2 separate regions of the Homo sapiens genome follow, and region 1 is linked to region 2. The links come from fine-mapping of genetic effects on gene expression. Tissue or cell type: blood mononuclear cells. Region 2 holds a variant in brackets; the other region holds the start of a gene. All regions are shown on one strand. Distances are from middle to middle.

Region 1 (8,000 bases), 37 kb before region 2:
TGAACTCCAGAAAATGAATATATATATATATATATGTGTGTGTGTGTGTGTGTGTGTGTGTGTGTGTGTATACATATACACACATATGTATGTATATATATACACCCTAGTGCACATAGTCAAACACATGCATAAATTGCCCTTTGTCAAAAATATTGCATAAGCTTGTACAATGTTCAAATGCAATTTCTTTTCTATCACTAGCTAGGTAGAGGAACGCGTGAAAGAGAGATACTCGATATATATTTATATACACTGGATCCACAGACCTGCCTGTCATCAGGACCAGATGCCCTGGTCCACTGTACAGTCATGCCCGCGACTAGGTTAATTCCTAAGGTGCAGTCATGTGAGGTGTTCAGATGCTGCCTTCCCCGCTTACTCTTCTGGCTTTGCAGAGGTCTGCGTTCCTGTTTAGAAGAACAGGGATAGGTAGGCTGGGGGGCCAGAAGTTTTAGTTCCATTCCAAATAGTCTATTTTTTTTCCCCTGATGGAGGGATTTTTGCCTTCTGATGGGAAAAAAACCCCTAGTTCAAGACCATTCCAAGCCTATTAATACTCTAAATATTAACACTGTGTAGGCTACTAGGAAAATAGGTTATCTCCTGTGTTTTAAATATTGAGATTCATGCAACAAACACCCATGCAGCTCTATTGCATCACTGGTAAATTTCACTGCAGTGTCAGTGTAGCTGGGCCACATCAGTGGGAAAGCAGATGTCTGCAAACTCCAGTAAGAAACCAGACATGTTTTTGTGACCCTGGAGCCTGCAAAAATGGTGAAATCAGAGGCTTAGAGGTCTGTTGGTTTGTTAGCTTCTCCCCATAGGCCTAAGGGAACAAATGTGAAACTTGACAACTCATATTCGGTCATACTAACTGTCCCTCCCCCGGGCTTCCCTCACATCGACACTGCAGAGAAAAAGCAGAATGCAGCATTTTCCGTTATGAAACACAAGCCTCCAGAGCATCTACTTGGCAACTGCAATTCACAAACTCCAGCCTGTGACACAGAAAGTAATTCCAACACACAGGACTGTGTGTTCTTTTCAATGCAAAAATGAGTATGACCTTTTGAACAAACACCAGCTATTTAAAGCTAAGCCATGATTGTGTTCCTCTGTGAAAGGGCAGGTGGGCTCAAATAAGGTGGTGGGATGGTGGGGAGGGGAGTGCATCTCTTGGATGTTGTGTGCATTTCATTAGGAAGGAATGATGGCACTGATATGGTGCACTGTGTATGGGATATGAGGTGGCCTCAACGTGTCTATCTGAAATCCTAGCTTGATAGGTGACTCCCGTCTTTGGAAGTTCATAAGCCGGTGATGAGGATGTGCATGAAAGCCATGATAGATATTCTGTGTTCTAAATCAAAAGTCAAAAGATCAAAAGTCACTTGCACAACTATTGCTTTCCATGCAGAACCAGATACACACTGTAGAACACACTGACTACAATGCAGGCTATTATGCAACATCTGCATTAGTTCCATTGAGCTGTGAGTACGGTAATAGGTTTCAATCAGACATCAGTTAACATTTTGGTAATATTCACATAGTTTGTGTTAGCCAAGGTACAGTTGGCTGTTTTCAAGTTTTCCTCTCTAAAGTCCTCATTACTGTTATTTACACCCTCCTGGATCTCCATGTAATCAGACTTACTAATGGTAGAGGCACTTCTACTTTTCTTTAGGTCAGGGGAGGATGGGATCTTTGGACAGCTTGTCACTTGCAAGTATTGGGCCTGTTCCTCTCCCTCTGTCTCCCGGTGGTAGAAGTAGTTGAAATTGGACACAATGACAGGGACCGGTAAGGCAATAGTTAACACACCTGCAATCGCACATAGGGAACCCACTATCTTTCCCCCAATGGTAGTCGGAACCATGTCTCCATAGCCTACAGTTGTCATGGAGACGACTGCCCACCAGAAGGCATCTGGGATGCTGGGGAACTGGGACTCTCGCTCATCGGCCTCTGCAAAATACACAGCACTAGAGAAAAGGATGACCCCTATGAAGAGAAAGAATATCAGGAGGCCCAATTCTCTCATGCTGGCTTTGAGGGTCTGACCTAGAATCTGGAGACCTTTGGAGTGTCTGGACAACTTGAAAATCCTAAAGACTCTTACCAACCGGATGACACGGAGGATGGCCAGTGACATGGCCTGCTGGCCTTGCTGAGCGTCCTCTGGCTTCTCAGCCAACTCTGTCCCCAGGGTGATGAAGTAGGGGATGATGGCCACAATGTCAATGATGTTCATGATGTTGGTGAAGAAGCCGGCTTTGCTGGGACAGGCAAAGAACCTCACCAAGAATTCAAAGGAGAACCAGATGATGCAGAGTGTCTCTACAATGAAGAAAGGGTCTGTGAAGGAAGTGGACTGCTGGTACCCGATGGTGCTGTTGGAATAGGTGTGGAAGGTCACCCCACTACCATGCATGTCTTCATTCTCATCCCGGAAGATGGGCAATGTTTCCAGACAGAAGCTGACAATTGAGATCAGAATCACCATGACAGACACAATAGCTATAATCCTGGCAGGCCCTGAGCTCTCTGGGTATTCAAAGAGAAGCCACACTTGTCTCTGAAACTCATTTTCAGGCAGAGGACGCTCTTCCTCCTTGATGTAGCCTTCATCTTCCCGAAACATCTCCATCGCTTCTTCTCCCAGCTCATAAAACCGAATTTCTTCAGAGAATATATCTAAGGGCACATTCACAGGTCGCCTCAATCGGCCCCCTGACTGGTAGTAGTACAAAATGGCATCAAAGCTAGGGCGGTTCCGATCGAAAAAGTACTCATTTCGGAGGGGGTCAAAGTACCTCATTCGTTTCTTTGGGTCCCCTAAGAGGGTCTCTGGAAACTGGGCTAAGGTCTTTAGCTGGGTCTCAAACCGCAGCCCTGAGATGTTGATCACCACCCTCTCACAGCACTCGTGGTCTGCCTCTGGGTCATAGGTGTCCTGTGGGTGCCCAGGGAGGGCAGCAGCCTCGTCTGCTGGGTCTCCGGTGGCCACTGTCATAATTGGGACTGAGAGAAGCACCTCACGCTATGCCTTTCAGCTGCCTGGTGGCAGGGAGCTCAGGGTGCTGCTACTGGCCCCAGGAAGCACAGGAGCATTGGCCTGGTCTCCTGCAGGAGAGCCCCGAGAGCTCTCTGAGAGCTGGAGAGACAGCCTCGCTTGGCTGAAAGACAGAGGCAGTTATTGACATGAGGCTACTCAGCATTGGCAGCCTGACCTGGGTTGCCACTTTTTGTCTCCCATCTCTCAGCCAAGAGTTCAGACACATGATCACCACCACCACAACGACAAAGCAAAATTTACTTTCACCTTGTAACTTGTCTGGGGATCAGGGGGAGCAGGTAGCAATCTCTCCAGGAACCTCTGGAATGCCCTGCATTGGGGGAAGGTGGCTGGTACAGGCCCGCTTGTAGCACACAGGCTTCATGGAGCATAACCCCATGCTAATAGGTTAAAAGTGGACCCTCTCCCAGGTGCTGCACTAATGTCTCAGATACTCATACCCAGGGAGGTATTCATGGTTGGGGAGCTTGGGCCTGGGTCTTTCTCATTGGCCTCCACCCCAGTGATTCTACACAAGGCTGTTATTAAATGATAGATTGATTTACCTGACCAGAGACGTGAAGCTCTCTTCCTTGCAGAGCTGATCAGATGCTGCAGGAATCTGAGATGCACCAACAGGCAGCCCAACTCCTCATCACGTCTTCTCACTCGAGCTAGAAATAATGGTGAGTCATTCTGGGCAGAAGGGCAGACTCTGGGTCCTGGAGGTGAGCTCTAGGATTGGGCTGGGCTGGAGGGGCGGTGAGGTGCCTGGCCAGGGGCATGCGGGACTTGAAGACAGCCGAGCATGGGCCTGGAGCCTTTTGAAGGAAGGAGGCAAGATGCAAAGCTCAGCAAAAGCTGGAGTCCTGGCTGTCCTCAGGAGGTGTGACGTTGCCTGGAAAAAAACAGCAGCAAGGTGGAACCAGGGCATTTGAACCAGCTGGTGCCAAGATTTAGGAGGGTCTGGCAGCTTCCCTCATGGGAGGTAACAGGCCCCCATGCCCATCCTCTATTCTGATGCCAGGCCTGAGGACTATCCCTCAGCCTCCTTGCCTCTTCTGGGCAGGCTTCCCATCAGCTTGAAGCATTTTCTCCCAGGGAGCAAGACTCAGGCTTGGCTGGGCCTGCCTTCTCCAGGGGCCTCCCTGGGTTGATCCAGGTTGCTAGTCCCCAGCTGCTCTCAGGAAGGACTCTGGAAGAAGCACTCCTACCCCCACATGTCAGGACACAGCAGCTCCCAAGAGGAGGGCTTAGCTCACTGCAGCCTGTCTACAAGCTCTGACCTCAGCCAGTCCTGGAAAAGAAGCACCCCACCCCCCAGCACACACACTCCTTCAGAGCGCATCTAGGGAGACCCCACACAACAAAGTCTGCACTGTACGAAAACTGGATGAACTTACTCTCCCTCCGGGATCCCTGGGCCGCAGGCCTCCCTCTGAGCCGGGTGGCATTTGAGCTGGGCAGGCGCTCGACCACTGATTTCTCCCCCAAGAGAAAATCCCTCACATCTCCTCGGCAGGGAGCACAGAATAAACGCTCCGCCTGCCTAGCTGCGAGGCGGCTTGGCAGCAGCGAGAGGGGGAGCCTGGAGGAAGCCGGCTTCCGGACTGGCCCCCTGCCGACCCAATCCCGCCGGCCCCAGGGCGGGGAGGGGTCTGGGCCCTCTCCCCATCGCCCCGGGCTCCGGCCGGGATTCCGTTCGGCGCACTCAGCGCTCGCCTCCGCGCAGAGGACCAGACCCTCCCGCTGGCCGCGGCCGCTAGCGCCACCTTAACCCCCTCCTGCCCGCGCGGTCGGCTCCTGCTGCGGGCCCAAGCGCAGTTCAGCTCTTAAGCCCCCGGCGTCCAGCCGAGGGACCGCCGAGGCTCAGTGTCCAACCCAAAATCCCGGAACCTGATCTCTGGGGGTGGGGAGTAGCCTGCGCCAGGCTGCCGCCCCAGATCTCAGCTTCCTTTTAAGCGCGGGGGCTCGGCGGCAGCCCACGGCCCCAGCGAAGGGGAAAGCCCTCTCTGCAGCAAAGCCGTTTGTTATTCTGTGCCGAAGAGGCGAATGCAGCCCGGCCGTCCCAAGTGGTTCAGGTCCTACCAACCCGCGCTATTTACCAGACATGGTTATGCTGCCAGCTGCACTTCCCACCACCCACCAGCTCCTCTCCGTGCCCTCCGCCCCGCGCCACGCAAACCCCAGAGGGTCCCGAGCCCATTCTGTGCACTCTTCTTGAGCAGGGTGCAAGTTCCCCTTGATCTCCCCGGTCTGGGACCTGCCGAGCAGACGGCAGTGGTCGGCAAGGGCTTGCCGCCGCGGACTCAGCCCAAGCCTGCTGCGCTGCAGGCTGCGCCGCCGGGTGCCCCGCAGCCCCTCTGGGCGCCGCAGCCGGGCAGGGAAGGCAGCACGCGCCGCGCAACGCCCCGACACGGATTTACCCTTCCGGATGGGCACCGGGGCCTCCATGTTCCTAGGTTACGGCCAGCGCCGGCAGAACCCCGGCAGCGGGCGGCGGCGGGGTGCGGGCGGCCAGCCGGGAGCCGGCTCTGCAGTCCCGCGGGCGGCGCGTACGGAGCTCCCGGCCGCCGCCCGCAGCCGCACCGCGCCACGCAGCGCCGCACCTGGCTCGACGGCGAACTCGAATTAAAGGGGCCGGCGGGGGCCGGGGCCGGGGCCGGGGCGACAAGCTGCCCTCCGCCGCCACCGAGCTCGTCACCTCGTTGGGCCCCCGGGCCTCAGCCCCCGCCCCGCGAGGAAAACATTCTTTGGCAGAGCCCGACTTACTAACCAGAACCTCCAGGAGAGCTCAGCTGGGTGCTGCCGGGCCGGGGAGATGGGGGAGGGCAGAAGTTGAGGGGCACTGGTGAGAGGCTCCTGCCAACGTAATGAAGTAGGCAAGGAGGAGATAATCAATAGCAGCTACCCCAGGCCCACAGCGGGATCCAGCCCCGGGAGAGACGTGTTGCTATTATTGTGGTGCCTCCAGACAGGATCTGCAGACCCCTTTCTTGCCCTTTCTCCCGCCAGCGCGACCCCTTCTCCAGATCGGCTTCCCACCTCCCTGTTACCCAGCAAAGATTTGGCTTCGCAGGGAAATGCAGCAGGTGCGGTCCGCAGTGTGGCAGAAACTCTTCTGCTGTGTTCGCCCCCACCGAGAGGAGCCGCAGGAACAGGCAGCACTGCAGGGCTGGCCCTCTCCACTCCCCGACTCCCTCCCCCAGGGCCCGGGCAGGGAAGGCTGGGGGACACGCCGCTGCCCTTGGGAATGGTCAGCTACTCACAAAACGGGCCCTCTGGCAGAACTTGCAAAGCCAGGTGGCCCACAGGGCTCTGAACTTAGGAGTGCAGCTTACAGCACCCTAGGTGGGCAGACGAGGATGCCCTTTGCTTTCGGGAAATGTGTGTGGGAGGCACAGCCTACTTTCTGCCTAGATAGGGCATCCGAGAAGGTCCAGGGTGCTTTTGGGAGGCAGACGACAGCCTCAAGCCCCTGCTAGTTCTGTTCTCCAGGTCCCTGTCAGGGTCACCTAGACAGGTGTGCCAAACAGTGGTGGTTCCTTGAGATAAGACTGCGGTAGACACGGAGCTCTGGATTCAGATGGGCTCTAGCACCAGGAAGTCCCCACTGGGCCCTCCCCCCTACCCTCCGGCCGGGAAACCCTCCTCTCTATGCGTGTACCTCGTGGGGAGAGCCCTGAAAGCCCATGAAGCGGGACTCCGGATTCTGGCGTTTCATCGTGGTAGTCTGTGAGGTGTGGTTGAAGACTGGGAGCCTGCCTAGAGCTGCAGGGGGTGGTCTGGGAGGGCAGTGACCTCCGTGGGCCCAAAGGATGACAGATGACTATAGAGAAGGGCTGGTATGGTTTAGAGCACCTTGAACCTGGCCTGTTAGTGTCCCAGTCAGTGAACGGCTTGGGTGTTTTGGAGGCAGTCAGATGGAAACGTAACTCCCTAACAGTTACTAGATAAGTTATTTCACTTCTCTGGGCACCAGTGCCCTCCTCTGAAAAATCAGGATGCCCCTAAGGGTGTGGTGAGGTTTTAATTGTTGAATGAGTTTAGCATCCAGCAGACACTGAATGCATGATGATTTCGCTGCTCTGCTTCCTTGTGAAACTCTCCTCATAGCTCTTAGCTTCCAGCTTAGCTCTGGGGTGTTTCTCTAGGCTCCCAATCACCAGGTCCTTGTTGCCCCATTCCCTCTGCTTCCCAGATTGCCCCGCCCTTTACTTTCCTTGAGATCTCACCATTCCCACCCCTCTACCAAATTGACCTCCAGTTCCCTTCCCTATATACTCCTTCTGAAAGCCTCCCCTGACCAGCACCAAGGGGCTCTGTTTCTCCTATTTGGCACACTGGGTTCTCGTGTCATTTAAAGTCAGATAATCCTGTGTGGCCAAAGTCAGATACTCTATCCATCTGATCATATGTATACATTTCCTTTGCCTTCCTTCTTGAAAACAGAAGCTGTGGACAGAGAAAAGCCCTTGAAGGAAAATCAATCGTCATAATTGGTGACATGGGCTTACCATGTGTCAGACCCTGTGCTAAGCACTTCTTACCCAGGGCAACATTTAATTCTCACAGCCCTAGAAGTCAATGTATACATTAGTACCATTTCATTGGAAAGGAAATGGAGGCAGTGAGAGGTGAAATCACCTGCCTGAGGTTAATAAATGGTGACTCTAGGACTGGAATTAGGTCTTTGTGATTCTAGGACATGTGCCCTTAGCCCCCACACCACACTGTGCAGGTGGAATGAGCAGCTCTTGAATTTCATTTCCCTCTTTGAGATCTTCCTCTGACCTCTGCTTCTATTTTGTGACTTGGCCTCAGGGGTATGTTGTCCTGTCTCTATCCTTTAAACTTAAATGTGAACAATGACAAAAAAAGAAATTAACTAAAGAAGGGGGAAAAAAAAGAACCATCATAACAGTTGTTTAGGCAC
Region 2 (10,665 bases):
AAAAACCCCAAATTAGCCAGGCATGGTGGTCCATGCCTGTATTCCCAGCTTCTTGGGAGGCTGAGGTGGGAGGATTACCTGAGCCCAGGGAGGTCGAGACTGCAGTGAACCGTGATGGCACTTCTGCACTCCAGTGTGGGCAACACACTGTCTCAAAAATAAGTAAAATATTTTGTGTCTCAAAAATAAGTAAAATAAAATAAAAATAAAATAAAATTAGATTTGATCTGGAAAGAAATTTTGTAGAAAAGAATGTGTCACCTGGAGTAACCTACATCCAGAGTAACCTACATCCACTTGGGAGGCTGCAGTGTGCTCAGAGTGAGTTGGAGTTCCAGCCCTAGCTGATGGTGGGTGGGAGCATTCCCCTGCCCCTTCCTGCTCTGCTGCAGGGCTCCTTGGAGCTCACTGGCAGCATGTCCTCCCTTGGTAGCTGGATAGGCCCTTCAGTAGGCTCTGCAGGCTGAGCAGCCATGGGAGACAGCTAAACCCATACCCATACTTTGGCTCTGTGACAGAGTGGTCCAGCACTTCAGGACCTGCCTGGGTCCTGGGTCTGCCCCTGGGTGGGGCCTGGGTGGTATGGGTTCCCTTCGGGTGGTCTGGACTCAGCCTGATGAGACAGCCTTTGGTGGCTGGTTTCCATTGGCCCCTGAGAAGCCCTCTGCTGGAGCGGCATGGAGTGACTGAGAGAGTCAGTTCTGTGTCTTGAACTGTCATGTATTTTCTGGTTCTGGAAGCAGAATCTGCTTTATGTGCTTGAGATGCTGAGCCAAGGGCAGACACATCCTTATTCTCAGAGAGCCACTACAGGAGGGGAAGCAGGGGTCTACTGGCCGTGAGCACAGCAGTACATGCCGCATGTCTGCCAGACAGGCTGGGAAAAAGCTTGGGGGAGAGGGAGGGCTCACCAGGCCTGGAGGCTGCAGGAAGCCAGCCTCCTGGCCTCTGAGGATGGTGCTATGACACCAGTGCTGAGGACTGGTGGGTGCAGTGGGGTGAGTTGAATGAGCTGGGAATTCATGCTCTGAATCTATTTCCCCTGCTGCTTCTCCACTCCTCTATTCTCCCTCCCCTCTCCTCTTCGGCATTCACTGTAGCCTTGATACTTAAAATATCATCACAGCCAGTGAGCAGCTGTCAATGACCGGTCCCCTTACCTCAGCACTAGGTGGTGCTTGTATCTCCCTTCTGGCTGGCTGAGGAAGCTGGGCAGCAGGAGGCAGATGCTGGTTCAGAGCCCCTCTTCTTGCAGAATCATTAGGCAAAGCTCCCAGCAGCCTGACTTATGCAGATGTCAGAGCTCAGGCTTTGGTTCTTGTGCTTGAGCTAATTGGCATCTTTGGAGAAGCTTTTCAGCCTCTGGCCTGTGGGCACCTGTCCCTGAGGGGTGGCCCATCATTCAGCCTTGGTCTTTGCATTAGGCCTGTATAGCTACCGAGTTTTCACCCCAAGCCATGTCTGATGGCCTTTGGCTGGAATCTGGGATGGTAGAAAGCTGTTGAGACAGTTGAGTCTAAATTAAATATTAGATCTGGGTGGGTTTCACATATTTCATAGCATAACTTTGTTGGGATATTTATTTGCTCTTCTCCTGGTTCTCGCAATTTAATAATTGAGTAAAATCCGTTTTGACATTCAGCACTGATTTGCTTACATTCTGCTGAAGTGCACCTGCTCTGTGAGAGAGTGGGTGTGTGTCAGGAGGCTGGGAGAAGTGGGGGCAGACAACAGAAGCTTCAAATGAGAGACATGGCTTGGGCACTGACTTTATATGTGAAAATGTGATTCAGCCTTAAACTTGTGGGTCGCTTGCTAGATGACAAGCGCTAGATCAGACTCCAGTGGGAGAGTAAAATCATGGAAGATACCGTCTTCTTCCAGGAAGCTTGTGTTGGGGAAATAACGTCAAACACAACAACACCAGCTAAAGAGCAGAGTGCAAAGACAGGTGGCTCTCCCCTAATTCCACTGCACATACACTCACAATCAGATACACATATGTACACATTAGGTCAAACCTGTGAAGACCAAACCAGGCTCTGGGTTTTGGGATTGGGGTCATCAAGACCTACAAGTAAAATCTCCTCTTTTCAAATCTGCATTTCCTTATAGCAAAATGGTGGGAGCATAGGCCCTGGAGCCAGGGGCCTGCCTGAGAATCTGGTTCCCTCCATACTAGCTGTTTATGCTTAGACATGCCACTTAACCTGTCTGTGCTTCAGTTTCCTCATCTGTAAAATGGGAATTTCAGTGTCTATTTCACAAGTTTGCTGAGAGGTTTAAAGAAGTTAAAACATGTATGCGCTTCAAACAGTGTCTGGCACATGGGCAGTGCTCAGTAGCTATGACTATTGTTCCAAAGATCTGACCACTTTTCACTGCTTGCAGAGGTAAACGGTAGATGTTCAGACCATAAGGGAAAAACAGAGGCCCATTTTTAAGATGAGAAAGTGGGACAAGTAATAGAATATCTGCCTGGTTTCAGGAGAGGAGAGGGTCCTGGAAACTTGGTTCTTCTTACACAGCTGCTGAGCCCCAACTGAATTCAATTCATCAAAAGTATAATGAGGATCTGCTGTGCACAAGGTATGTAAGTGTGGTGGGGAAACAGGTGCTTCAAGTATGGAGCCCATCCTCTACCTCAGGAGGTGGAACAGACAGATAAAAACAAGGAGTAGAACATGATAAATATCACAAATACTCAGGAAGACCCTAAGTTGTAAGAAGAGAGGAAAGTCCTTTTGAGTGTTGGAGAAGAAGATATCAGGGACAGCATACATCAGAACAGAAAGGCAGAAAAGCTTGGCATATATTTGAGAACAGGACAGAGTCTATTTTGGTTGGAGGAAGCTTGGGTGAGAAAGGGTGTTGGGCTATCACTGGAAAGTGTGGGATGCAAAGGCAGGGTGAGTTGGCACTTCATCAACAGATAATGGAAGGCCACTGAAGGCTTTCTGAACAGGAGTAGAATCTTTTTATATTTTAAAACTAGTAGACTACAGTAAGTGAGGAAGATGGAGGGATGAAAGACGACAACTTTTGTTCATTTGTTTGTTTGTTTTGCCTGGGTGACTATCTGCATGATGGTATCTGCTAGAGATAGGGAAGTCAGAAGAAAGGGCCAAATCACTGGAGAAAGAAAATGCTTTACTTGGACAGTCTGGATGGGAAGTTCCAGTGAGTCATCCTGGTGGCAATGACTGGCAGATTGTTGGAAATGGAGGAGCTAAAGCGAGAGAGGCTAAGAATAGAGATATGGATTTGGGAGTTAGTGGCAAATAGAGTTAAACTATGGGAATGTATATGATGGCCTGAGAAGAAATTATAGGAGAAGTAAGAAGGACTAAGGGCTGAGCCTGGGAGACAGGACATGGAGGGGAAAGGCAGCTGAGAGGAGCCTTGAAGAAGACTGAAGAGGAATAATTGCTACTGAGGAGAAGCAAGGCAGTTCAGTGTGATGGATGCCAAAAGATGGAGAAGTCAAGGAGGTAAGACCCAAGGAAAGGCTACTTTTGGGCTGCTGGTGACCTGGAAGAGCCATCTGCATAGAGTTCTGGGATGGGCAGAGTGAGAGAGCATGGTAGAGCAAAGGGTTGTGGGAAGACCTGAGAGGCTTTGTAGAATTAAGGGAAGAGATGAGATACCAAGCGCATTCAGTCCTGCCTATCTTCCTAATGCATGAATTAAGATCAGAAAAGAGAACTAGAGAAAGAGGCTAGATGGCTGCGAGAAGCCAGAATATTAAGAAGTTGGTCCAGGTGAGGTGGCTCACGCCTGTAATCCCAGCACTTTGGGAAGCCGAGGCGGGCAGATCACAAACTCACGAGTTGGAGACCAGCCTGGCTAACATGGTGAAACTCTGTCTCTACTAAAAATACAAAAATTAGCTGGACGTGGTGGCGGGCTCCTGTAATCCCAGCTACTCGTGAGGCTGAGGCAGGAGAATCATTTGAACCTGGGAGGTGGAGGTTGGAGTGTGCCAAGATGGTGCCATTGCATTCCAGCCTGGGTGACAGGGCGAGATACTGTCTCAAAAAAAAAAAAAAAAAAAAAAAGAAAGAAAGAAAAAAGAAAAAAAGAAATTGGTATTAGTAGCAGAAATGCGGAGTGTGAGAGGGTGTATATAAATGGATCAGTAAGAAAACAAAGATTGAGACTGTTTATAAAATAGAATTGCCTGATTATGAACCAAATATGAGTCAGTTAAAATATGTCAATATAAAACATTTATTCTTAAGGAAAACAATTTAGACAATATCAAATATATTTAAAATGTTGGGTAGGCAATGGTTATGAAGGAGGAGAAGCACGCACTTCTCCAACTGCACCATCACTAGCCACACGACTTCCTGTGAGTTATGACCCCTCTGCTTCACATTCTCATC[G/C]TATAATGGGGATAGTAACACTTTTCAAGGTTTTTGCATTGTTGTAAGGACTGAGTGAGCTATTGAGGAATCTGAATGCAAAGGAGTTATTATCCCAGTGCCTTGTGCATTGTGAGTAGGTGCTGAGTAAGTATTAACTATCATCACTATTAGCTTTTCTCGGCTGTCGGTAGTGCAGTCTTGGAGGGAACAGTTTGGCATTCTGGGCCCTGAGATTTAGCTGGATGGATGCTCAAATACTTGCATTGAGTGGATAAATGCAACTGAAGTAGAAGTGAAAGATCGTGTGTGACTAAACAAAAGAGAAAAGGGAAGAGAAAGGAGAGGTTTAGTGCATTTGTGAGTGTGTGTGTGTGTGTGTGTGTGTGTGTGTGTGTGTGTAGGGAGGGAAGATGGTAATAATGCTAGGAGAAAGGCAGCATTTCATGACTGGCAGAAATGGGTTCCATGGTACCACTGCATGGTCGACTTAAATACAGGAAACCCTGCAACTTGTGGTTTCACAATTCTCAGTTGTGAACATTGGTGCTCTTTATGAAACCCTTCAGTCAAAACTGCAAATATACAGTCCAGAACCACAGATTTCTTTAATTTTGACTTTGTAGCTAAGTCATCCTAATCAGGGACTCTCTATCCTACCCACACCCAAACTCAGTAAACACAAAGAATACTGAGAATATCAGACCAAAATATTTGGTGTACAGTTCGGATTCATGTTCTGTCTTCTCCAAGTCTCAATTTTCTTCTCTGTGATGATCGCCTAATGTCTACCTTTTTGAATGTCTATGGAGATGTATTTAAGTACTTGGTAACCTGGAATGTGCTAAATAGAGGTTATCTTTTTTTTTTTTGAGATGGAGTCTCGCTCTGTCACCCAGGCTGGAGTGCAATGGCACTATGTTGGCTCACTGCAACCTCTGCCTCCCGGGTTCAAGTGATTCTCCTGCCTCAGCCTCCCAAGTAGCTGGGATTATAGGCACCCACCATCATGCCTGGCTAATTTTTGTATTTTTGTAGAGATGGAATTTCACCATGACCAAGCTGGTCTTAAACTCCTGACCTCAGGTGATTCACTTGCCTTGGCCTCCCAAAGTGCTGGGATTACAGGTGTGAGCCATGGTGCCCGGCCAGAGGTTATCTTTTTATACTAGTTTTCTTTAATATTTTATTTTGGATTTGTTCTATGTGAATTCACCTGAAGGTGATTTGAACCTGTTTACATTGTAATCTGTAACACATTTTGGGCAATAAACTTCATATGCTGACTACTTAGCTCCTTTCATTCATTTTAAATTTACTTCCCAAGTGTTCAGCTTCAGGGAATGCTCTTCAGGAACAACGTCCCTGGATCTGGTGATCAAGTGGATCACCAGAACCTCACCCAGAACCTCACCCAGAACCTTTGATCTCATTTTTCATTTTCTCCCAGTCTGAGGAGGCCCTGACTCTGCCCAGTGAAGCTGCTCTCTCTCTGGCAATGCCCATCCCATCAGCCATGATGTGAGCGTTCTTGAGCTCTGCCCTGTGCATGAGGTTTGTCCAGCTGGGGGAGGGAACTAGAGTCAACACTGTTTCCCAGATGTAGGCAATATGGTTGCTGCTCTGGCACGGTAATCTGTAGGTTCTATGGGACATTTTTAAATCCCAGCCTGCTTTCTCTTTAACTAGCTTCTCTTCCTATCCCTTTAAAGCTTTAAAAATTACCCCAAATGTCTGCGAGTAGCCTCCACACAATCCAATATATTTGATGCATTACAAAGTCCTTAAACATGACTCCTGGATGATCTTTTCTTTATCTACCCTCCATTAACAGAAATGACATAGAACTGCTTATGTGTATTTACATGGATCTCTCTCACCTCCTCCCTCACCTCCCACCCCACCTCACCCCCCACCCCCAAATACTGAAGTGTTAATGGGGATAGTGCATTGTTTAAGCTGTCACAATGTGTGATCAAGACAGACTGAAAGTCCTCTAAACCTTCAATAGTAATTCCATTCTCCAGGAGAGATGGAAAATTCTTGCATGCAGGAGATATTAGTTGCTCTGTTTCAGTCTGAATTGTGCACAGAGTTTCCTGGGCTACTGTAAGGTGGAGTAATCCCAGATTGCCGGGGCTGTTCCATGCATCCCATGGGATAATGTGTAATGATCAGTAACCTGTAAAGTGCTGAATTAAGGTTATCCTTTTATCCTAGTTTCCTTTAATAATATATTTTGAATTTGTAGCATGTGAATTAATCTAATGTCTTGTAAATGGGTGGATTTCTGGTGTGTCCTGATCTTTCTCGATCTGCCTGGAGTCAATCAACATTCAGGAGTGAGGAGTGGGATGAAGAATGGAGATTCTAGAACCAATATCTAAAAATATGTATGGAGGTGGGGGCAGGGAGGGAGTTCTTGGGAGGCTACCAGGAGGATTCTTGCTTCCATATTCATTTATCCATAAATCATTTGTTGGGGGCTGTGTTGTTTGGTGGCCTCTGTGGCTGAGCCATGAGGTAAAGCTGATGACAAAGATTTCACTCTGCCAGTCTTCTTGCTCTCTGAAGAAAGGCATCCCCTCTTCCCTTGGGAGGCCCACCCTCTGCCTCTTAGCTCAGCACTCAGTTTGAGACTAGGCTGTCTGAGCTGTCTCATTCCGTTTGTGATCATGTGCCATTCCGACTTCCTCTATTTCCTCTTCTTTATTTACTATTCTGTAGTCTTCCCCACGCTTTCAAAACTGAAGGAATGGTCGAGTTGCCATGGCAACCCTCTGCCCCCACCTCTTTTTCCTTTCTCAACAATTTTTCTACATTTTAATAAAATTACTATTTATAGTGCACAAAGCTGCATTCCCCTCCACTGCAGCTCTGCAAGGGAGGTTTTCTGTCTGACCAGAATACTAATAACTAAAACATGGCTTTCCAGTGAGGAAGTGAGGAAGCCCTCCAGAGCAATCACTTTGGGAGACATATGTGTTCTTTAGGATATTGTTTAAGATGTATGAAGGGCTTGGCCTGCATATATGAAGAACCTCAGTTGACAGGGCTGAAACCCCATCCTTGTAAAATATACCATATAAATGTTGAATATGGCATTCCGGGCACTTTGGGAGGCTGAGGCGGGTGGATCACTTGAGGTCAGGAGTCCAAGACCAGCCTGGGCAACATGGTGAAACCCCATCTCTACTAAAAATACAAAAAAATTTAGCTGGGCGCAGTGGCGTGTCCCTGTAATCCCAGCTACTTGGGAGGCTGAGGCAGGAGAATTGCTTGAGCCTGGGAGGCGGAGAGTACAGTGAGTTGAGATTGCTCCATTGCACTCCAGCCTGGGTGATAGAGTAAGAGCCTGGGTGACAGAGCAAGATTCTGTCTCAAAAACAAAAACAAACATAGAACTGATCTTTTAGGGTTGTTTTAAGGATCCAATAAATTAATATAGACAAGGACTTAAAAGAGTGTCTGTCGTCATTTGTTATAGGCATTTGAATTATTATTTTAGTAGCTTATTAACATCCATGAAGACTATTCCAAATGTGAGGTTTTACCAAGGTTTTATAGCTGTTGAGGGATAGGCCCGGTGGAGGAGGTTAGGAGGGGTTATTTTGTATGGAATGAAACATTTAGACTACATTGAAGAGTAGAATGAAGGAGTAGCTTTTAAATTCTTAGTGTTCAATAATGAAAATATTCATTCTTTATCATGTTTTGGGACTTTCTAAAAACAAATTTTATATAGGAGCAAGGCAGATTATTTTAGCTTAATTTGAACTTACATTGTTTATTCATTCAAAGGGCTCACAGGTGGAAAATCTCTGAGTGAGGTTACACAGTAATGATCTGGTAGTAGTGCTACTTAAACTTTCATGTGCATATAAATCACCTGGGAAGTTTATTACACTTCAGATTCTAATTCAGTGAGTTGGGGGTGGAGCCTGAGATTCTACATTTCTATCAAGCTCTTAGATGCTGCTGCTGCTGCTGGTCCCTGAGGACCATTGAGTAGCAAGGTTTAAGGTTTTTGGGGCCAGCTCTTCCTAAAGACACTTTTTAAACAAAGGTGTGGGTTGAGTGGAAGGGGCTCTCCAATTTCTTAGTTATTACCCAATTGGAATTACCCAATACTAATAGAACTGGGCCCTCATGAGAGAATGAGGTTAAGAATCACCAGTGGAAGCCAGAAGACTTCTTTTTTCTGAGATTTTAACAAGAGAAGTCAGGAAAGGCTATATACTTTTTTTATTTTTATTTTTATTATTTTGGCCAGAAAGCTCAGAGGTGCCTGACTGCATTGTATTCAGGCTCTACTCTTGCTTTATAAGTCAAATGTGATTACTCACTTAATTTTGTTCTTGAAACATTTTTAGAACCCAGTAAAACTCATCATTTTCCTGAATGAGAGTTAAGGCTTTTTTTTTTGGGTGGTGATTTATTCAGAATATTTTGAAGACATGATTGTGGGACTAAGATCCAAGTGAAACTGAGCCAAAAGAAGACGTAATTATTAAAACATTAACTTGAAATTTTAACTCCTGTTTGAAAGCATTGCTTCCCTCTCTAAATGTCTGTCAATATCTTATTTAAGTCTTTTTTTTTAAACAAAGCAAAACAAAACCTTTGACATGTTTTTAAGAACTAACAATAATGGTGATATACAACAGCTGCAGTCTCACTTCCGAATGGAGGAATTAAAGGCTCATGTTAGAAGATGAGAGGTTTAGCTACTTTATAGGCTTAATCAGCCAGTGACTCACAATTACGAGTCATGTGATTTAAAAATCTCAGTGACTGTGAGCTTCTCTTTGGAGGACTGGGCAAACTGTGAAGAAATATGTGAAATTAGAGAAAGAAATGTGAAGTAGACTTCCTCTTTAAATTCTGGATTAGCCATGACTCAAAGAGCATGGTAGGACATCTGTATATGCTCATTTTATTAGAAAGGCCATCACAATTGGATTTAGACTTCTATTCGTGTAATCCATCTTCTTTTTGCAGGCAGGATTATCTCTAGGCTAGTACTGAAAAATTGTCACTTCTATTAGATTATTAAGCAAGGTCTGTATCATCTCTCAAAAAGACCCACAGATCAAGATATGTTGACATCAGTGGAGGGGGAATTGCCCTTTTAGTGGCACCTTCAGCCTTTGCAGATGCCAATTCAATCAACCAGTAACAACTCAGATGGGAGATGGGAGAGTGTGGCTAAGATGGACAAGAATACACTTTCAAAATGCAAAGCTTTTCTGCAGCATTAGGGGTCATGGAGATGTTAAAAGACTTTTCAAATAGCAACTACACAATAGGATTCCAGATTAAAGGCTCCTCAGTTGACAGATAACCAGTGGGAAAAGATGAAATGAGAATTATCTGAGAATTGCTATCATAACCTATCCTTAAAACAGAAGAGCTTTGTTCCTTTTAAGCTCATGGGAGCATGTTATAGTAGCAGCCTTATAATTTGTCACTGAATAAATCACCAACACCAAGTTACATTAATTATATCTTACTCTTTAGCTCCCTAAATTTCTCCTTAATAGACCTAAAGGAATTATGATGAATAAGGATTGAGACCATTTGCAACCTTTGGAGTTAGTGGTTTGCTTTCCAATAATTGACATTTTTATCTATTAATGCAGTTAGGAAAATTCATGTTTTCAGTTTTGGTAAGAATTTTGCCTAGAATTATCAGCAATGAAAATCTTACTCTAAGTTAGTCAATTGTTCTTGATGATTATAATGATCTAAAGTTTGATGCCCACAGCCTTGTGTATGTTAATTTCCAGTAGATTCCGTAAGAATGAGAGAATGTGTGTATGTTTTTGAACTGGAAGACATTCTGACCGGGATCTACAGAGATATAAATGGGCAAATCCAGTACAGTTTAAACACAGGAGTTCTTATCTGAGTGGAATACTTCAGAGGGTTGGAGATTGAAGTAGCCCTCTGATGAAGTCTGGAAACTACTGGAAATGTTTAAATACTGTGGTTTAAAATTACACTTGAGATAAAATCTGATTTCCTGTTTCTAAGTCAAAAAGCTTACAATAAGGACCTTGAAGTTTCCTGGAATAATAAACAACACTTCTAAAACGGCAACTGGATGAGGTAAGTGTGGTTGACTAGAAAGTACAGATTAATTTTCTCAACACTACTCATGTTTCAAAATTAAGAGGGAAAATTTCCAAGAGAGAGACATATTTGAGGTCATGTTGAACCCAAAATAGTTTTAAGTGCTGCAATAGTTTGAAACGTTTTTAAGGGTTTTCCACTGCTGAGACAATTAGCTAGTTTC

The links. PIP is the estimated chance that this variant, and not a neighbour inherited with it, causes the effect.
Region 1: KCNA2 starts here. The variant in region 2 is fine-mapped to the expression of KCNA2 in blood mononuclear cells (TOPMed, PIP above 0.99).

What each region holds. Positions count from the first base shown.
Region 1 is chr1:110,601,761-110,609,760 of GRCh38, forward strand. It overlaps KCNA2 (potassium voltage-gated channel subfamily A member 2), which reads right to left and starts at 4,598. Exons shown (of 3, transcript NM_004974.4): 1 at 4,468-4,598; 2 at 3,631-3,962; 3 at 1-3,185. The coding sequence starts at 3,022. The coding sequence ends at 1,523.
Region 2 is chr1:110,637,035-110,647,699 of GRCh38, forward strand. No RefSeq gene overlaps it. Among named protein-coding and RNA genes, the nearest start is that of KCNA3, 33 kb to the right of the region's middle. The variant G/C (reference allele first, on the strand shown) is at 4,389.